Linked DNA regions of Homo sapiens. The protein of the gene in region 1 interacts with the protein of each later gene in a pairwise test. Each region holds a gene or a part of one and is shown on either strand. Other genes may lie near its edges.

Evidence for each region.
Region 2: the proteins of PMP22 (region 1) and DDX52 interact in a two-hybrid assay, tested with the Homo sapiens proteins (one large-scale study listed by BioGRID and IntAct).

What each region holds. Positions count from the first base shown.
Region 1 is NC_000017.11:15,231,803-15,234,326, forward strand, and holds part of PMP22 (peripheral myelin protein 22), read right to left. Parts: intron 812-2,524; coding exon of another isoform or gene 741-811; exon of another isoform or gene 1-740. UniProt on the Homo sapiens protein: Might be involved in growth regulation, and in myelinization in the peripheral nervous system.
Region 2 is NC_000017.11:37,626,347-37,630,084, forward strand, and holds part of DDX52 (probable ATP-dependent RNA helicase DDX52), read right to left. Parts: coding exon 3,684-3,738; exon of another isoform or gene 3,530-3,683; coding exon of another isoform or gene 3,503-3,529; intron 2,327-3,502; coding exon 2,215-2,326; intron 515-2,214; coding exon 442-514; intron 1-441.

The sequences.
Region 1 (2,524 bases):
CTAAAGGGCACTGGATATGCAGGTGGGTCAGGCCACCCTCCCTGGCCCACCAATGCAGCCCTTCGGTGTTGGAAAGAGAAGAAAAGCCTCCATCTTGGGCCCTGTGGAGCAGCCACGCTCAAACTGATGGCCCCAGCTCACGTGACAGACAGCGTCCCCCCACAAGGAGGGGTCCAGTGATGTCAGCACCCCAGCCTGGAGCTGCACAAAGCCTGGTCTGTTTCCTCCCTGAAAACAGGGTCTTTGAGAAGCTCTGAGTGACTCTATTATAAATCCAGTATGCCGTGTGGGATTCATGCAGTTCCAGAGTTCCCAATGCACCCGCGCCCCCCCACCGCCCGGCCACCTACATCTAACCTCACTGCTATTTGGGCTGCTGTTTTACTGGACACTGCAACTTTGTTTGAAGACAGTGCAGAAGTGGGAATACGCCACATGAACCACCCTGTTAAGCCTGTCCTCCTGCAACTCAGAGGAGAAAACTGCCACTTGACTGGCCCCTGTCAAGAGAGCCACACAATAGTCTTGGAACCAAAATGGGACAGCATCCAGGACCTGCCACCTACAGGAAGTTCAGAAGACAGCAAAGATGGCCATGTCAGGAGCGAAATCATTGCGGGTTAATTGTTGATTGCAGAAAACAGCAGTTTTGATCTGCTGGGGACACACTTTATTTGCCTTGAGGTCCAGGATCCTTAATTATCTTGCCCCACTCTTCCACGGCTTGCATCTCCAAAGTGCTAACTCTTGTCTTTAAGAAATACTGAAGTTGTCTCTTGGGCTCTGTCTGACTTATCTAATGAAGGCAGGGCTATAAAAAAGGAAACATGACCTTGGCAGAGAGAAAGGTGTTAACAGAGTGCTAGCAGGGCAGGACAACACTTATCATCATGCAGGCAGGGCTCCCAAATGGGCTGTCTAACCAGATCTGGCATGAGAAATGCCTCAGGAGCTGAGTGGACCAGCTACTCCCCGATTTCACTGACTAAGAGGAGATACCAGATTCCATCCTTGAACAAGAGGGATAGAAAGAGGCAGTATAGAGAAGTGCAGCGACTAACTACACAGCTTAATGTGTATGACTTTCATCTTAGTAGAATCTCAGAAGTGAATGACTCTAAGCTTAACCGTGATAAGCAGTAAACTTAGATATCTACAAAGCCAAAGAGAGGATACACACTTTATATGATTGTTGTCATGAGACTGATGTTTTAGGGAATATATTATTACAAGATTGTCTGCATGTAAAGCAATAGATGTACCCTGAAATAGAGAAAAGGATGATTCTTTGGCTGGGTTCCCTCTGTCTGCAACCCAAGACAGTTAATGTCATCCAGTAGTCATCTCCAAAAGCCAAATACCCCTAGTAAGTGGACTGTGACTCACTTTCTCAGCAACCAGTAGGTGGAGATGTATCACCAGGTCCCTGTGGCAAGGGTAAGTGAGGCCCTGAGGCACAGGCAGATGTTCTGCTCTTTGGCAATGACCGGGACTCCCTGGTAGGGGCCTGAGTCTGGGAGCATAGGTCATCTTTAAGCAGAAGGACACTGACCCTGTCCAGACAATACAAATGTGCTGAGCATTCAACTTACAAGAGTTTCTCCCTGTCTCAGGATGGGTAGGTCTGCAACAACTTCCTGCAAGTTCTGCCTAAAGCCCTTTTGAAGAGAAAGTCTTAAGCTCCTTTAACAGTGACTGCAACCCCATGAGAGTGATTAGAGCCCAGAGCCTCTGGAAGGAAGCACCCAAGGGGCCAAGGTCAAAGGAAGTAGCTGAGGGAATTCCCAGTACATCCTTATCATCTCCATTCCCTTTGGTTCAGTGAACATTTAATGAGTGCCTATTGCATGCGGGCCCTGTTCTAGCTGCTGCTCTAGATGTACCAAGATAAGTGAGACATGGCTCCTACCTTAAGGACTGTGTGTCTAGAAGACAGACATTTGCATATAATTTCAATATAGTTCGATGGAATTTCGAGAGAGGGAAGGAAATGCACCAGATGCCCCAAGAGCATAGACGGGCGCTGAGTCCAAACTGGAGAACTGGAGAAGCCACACGGACTCTCATATAATAGGCTGATTAGCTCACTAAGGGTCAGGAAAGAGAGGGCCTTACATGACATGTTAAGGAAGCTGTGATGAGAAGCCTCTGAGGAAACTTCAGCAGAGGAGAAACATGATCAGACGCACGTTTTAGAATGATCACTCTGGCCATGGTGCAGAAAATGGATTCAGGGGCAGGGACAAGGCAGGTAGCTGGAAGGTGCATGAGGAGGCCTTTGCATAGCTGCACTGGGGTTAGTGAGTCAAGACAAAGAAATGGGCGTAATGCCTACGGAGGATGCTACCCAAATGCAGGATTCAGTAGAAGGCTGGCTGTGGGGTGAGGGAGAGAGGAGAGGCCAGCATGACCGCCTGGTGTGTTCACTCAGGCAAGTGGGAACACAGCGATGTCTCAGAAGCCAGGGGAATAGAGCTTCAAAGAGTAAGTAGCTAACAGTATTGAAAGGAGCAGAGTGATCCAA
Region 2 (3,738 bases), about 22 Mb from region 1:
GGCTCATGGGGGCACTCTCTCTCTCTCTTCCCCATCTGCCACCATGTAAGATATGTCTTGCTTCCCCTTCTGCCATGACCGTAAGTTTCCTAAGGCCTCCCCAGTCATGCCCTGACTTGTGGGTCAATTAAACCTTCCGTTCTTTATAAATTACCCAGTCTCAGGTAGCTGTTTAGAGCAGCATGAAAACGGACTAACACAGCAGGAAAAAGGTAAAAGGAAGATAAACATAGCTTAATGTACCTATTCCAATAGCCTCAAAGATACGAGGTTCCATTTCTTTTCTATGAATTTTTTTAAAAAACCATTATTCTCAGTGCCAACACTGACTGAAGGTGGCAAACAGCAAGCTCCAAAGACAAAAAATACAAGCAATAGAGGACAAAATATAATTAACTAAATTAAAAATACACACGAAAGACATGAAAATATCATCTATACCTTGCTAGGTCGATTCCGGGGGGATCTTGCTTTAATAAATAGATTAGTCGATTTGGAGTAGTCACAAGAATATCTATAGGAAAAACAAATGGTAGAAATTGCAAAAACAGGATTTATCCCTCTTGAACTAGGAATTAAGCCTCCTCAACTTCAGTTAATAACCTGAAGTGGGAAGTAGTCATAGCCAACAACACAAAACTATTATATCCCTACTTTCCTTTTAATATATCTGAGCAGCTTTCTCTTTCTTTTTGAGACAGGGTCTTGCTCTGTCACCCAGCCTGGATGGAGTACAATGTGTGATCATAGCTCACTGCATGCAACTTCAAACTCTTGGGCTCAAGAGATCTTCTGGCATCAGCATTCTGAGTAGCTGGGACTACAGGCACATGCCACTGCACCTGGCTAATTTTTATTTATTACTATTATTTTTTTGAGACAGTCTAGCTCTGTCGCCCAGGCTGGAGTGCAGTGGCACAACCTCGGCTCACTGCAAGCTCTGCCTCCCGGGTTCACGCCATTCTCACTCCCGAGTAGCTGGGACTACCACTAGCTGGGACTACAGGCGCCCGCCACCACGCCCAGCTAATTTTTTGTATTTTTAGTAGAGATGGTAAATTTTTTTTTTACTTTTATTTTTGTAGAAACAGGGTCTCCCTATGCTGTCCAGGCTGGTCTCGAATTCCTGGGCTCAAGCAATCTCCCTGCCTCAGCCTCCCAAAATGCCGGATTACAGGCATGAGCCACAATACCCAGCCTCTTCTCAATTTCTAAGAGGAAAGAACAATTTAATTTTCAAATCTTTTTTTCCCCCAGGAAAATCATTTTTTTTACATGGAATTTTATGCAGAGGCCCAAGATTTAAACAAAACAAAACAGATGAAAGCTTATCTCCAAGTGGACAATGTCAAAAAACAAAAAGAAAAAAAAAAAAAATGAAAGCAGATTCTCTGGCTGATATAAGGGTGAGGATGTAAGCCGTTCTTTTTGTTTTTTTTAAGATGGAGTCTCACTCTGTTGCTCAGGCTGGAGTACAGTGGTGCAATCATAGCTCATGGCAGCCTTGAACTCCTGCGCTCAAGTGATCTTCCCACCTCAGACTCCCAAGTAGCTAGGACTACAGGCATGCACCACCATGCCTGGCTAATTTTTTTTTATTTAAAAAATTTCTTTTAGAGATGGAGTCTCGCTATGTTGCCAAGGCTGGTCCCAAACTCCTGGCCTCAAGCAATCCTCCCACCTCAGCTTCTCCATAGCTATAGGTATGGAGAAGATTACAGGTGTGAGCCACTGCACCCAGCTATGCATGCCATTCCTGTCTGCCAGAGTATTTCCATGGCAGATTAAAAATCAATGGTATAAATCAGAATTTTTTAGCCTCAGCACTGTTACCACTTTGGGCCACTAAGTGTTCGTTGCAGGGGACTGTCCTGTGCACCGCAGAATGTTTAACAACATCCTTGGCTATAGGCTAGTAACTACAGGCTAGTAGCACTTCTCCCCAGTTGTGACAACTACAAATGTCTCCAAATTATTGCCAAATGTCCCTGTGGTGAAAGGTGGGGGGCAAGATTGTCTCTATTTGAGAACTACTGGTATATATTTATGTATAACTTCTCAGTAGAGTGAGAAGGGGATCGCTTTAGTTCTTCTAAAATTCAAATTTTATACATACATGACTATACTTTAACAACACTTACATAGCAATTAGGATATTTATAATTTCCAGATTCCTTACATGCTCTATCTACATCCCATGTATGAATTCCTTACCAAACTTTTTAGATGATTTAGGTCCAAATTTCTTGGCTGCCACTGCTGCTTTGTGGATCATGTGTATTCTGAATCCTGTTCCCTCAGAAATTTTTATTAACTCTCTGTGAATCTAAAAAAAAAAAGATTAAAAACATTAGCTGCTAACATACTTGGACAAGATGTATACTCTTTTACATGATTAATGAAATAAATCTATTACCAACCCATGAATATCTGAAATTAAACTCATAACAATCTGTAGATTAACCTGAAATCTCAGCATTTTGAAACTTCAATGCCTAATAAGATTCAATAATTTCTTCAGGTGGAATAAACTAGTTCCCAGAGATAAAACTAACCTATTTTGTATTGTTTTCAGAATACAGTACTACTGGCCGGGTGTGGGGGCTCACACCTGTAATCCCAGCGCTTTGGGAGGCCAAGGTGGGTGGATCACTTGAGGCCAGGAGTTCCAGACCAGCCTGGCCAACGTGGTAAAACCCCATCTCTACTAAAAACACAAAAACAATTAGCCAGGTGTGATGGTGCGCACCTGTAATCTCAGTTACTTGGGAGGCTGAGGCAGGAGAATCACTTGAACCTGGGAGGCAGAGGTTGCAGTGAGCCGAGATGGCGCCGCTGCACTCCAGCCTGGTCCACAGAGCATGACTGTCCCAAGAAAAAATACACACACACACACACACACACACACACACACACACACACACACACACATAGTACTATTACAAGACTATTTCATACTTGATATGTGTTTCATATTAAGCACATTGGGAGGGTAGAACAGATCACTGTATACTTTTCCCTTCTAAAAAAAACAAACTGAGATGAGTCAGGCATAATGACTCATGCCTGTAAGCCCTGTACTTTGGCAGGCCAAGGTGGGAGGATCACTTGAACCCAGGAGTTCAAGACCAGCCTGGGTAACATAGGGAGACCTTGTTTCTACAAAAAGAAAAAAATTAACCAGGCGCAGTGGCATGTGCCTGTAGTCCCAGTTACTCAAGAGGCTGAAGAGGGAGATCTCTTGAGGCCAGGAGTTCGAGGTTGCAGTAAGCCATGATCACACCACTGCATGCCAGCCTGGGTAACAGAGTAAGAATCTGTGGCTAAAAAACAAACAAATAAATAAATAAAAACCAAAACTAAGATGAGTATTCATTTTTTTTAGATGAGAAAAATAAATGTCCAAGCAGGGCTATATTTAATTAGCCTTTCAACTTCAAAGACCTTAAAGCATTTACCAAAGAAGTGTAAATATTAAAATCACTGTGTTTTAGAAACTTACAGAAAGACTTAAAAGACTTGCCCACATGGAGTAAGATCCGGAGCACTGTGCTGTGTAGAGGATACTTGACCATGACAGAAGACGTGGGCCTTGCTTTTTAAGATCTTTTTATTACCTTCAAATAAGAAAGATCACTGAAGTAAAAACCAATCGCATACTCTTCAAAAGCTACAAGTCATACCTGGCTGGCAAGTTCTCGTGTTGGTGATATAATCAGGGCTCTGAAGCCTTTATTT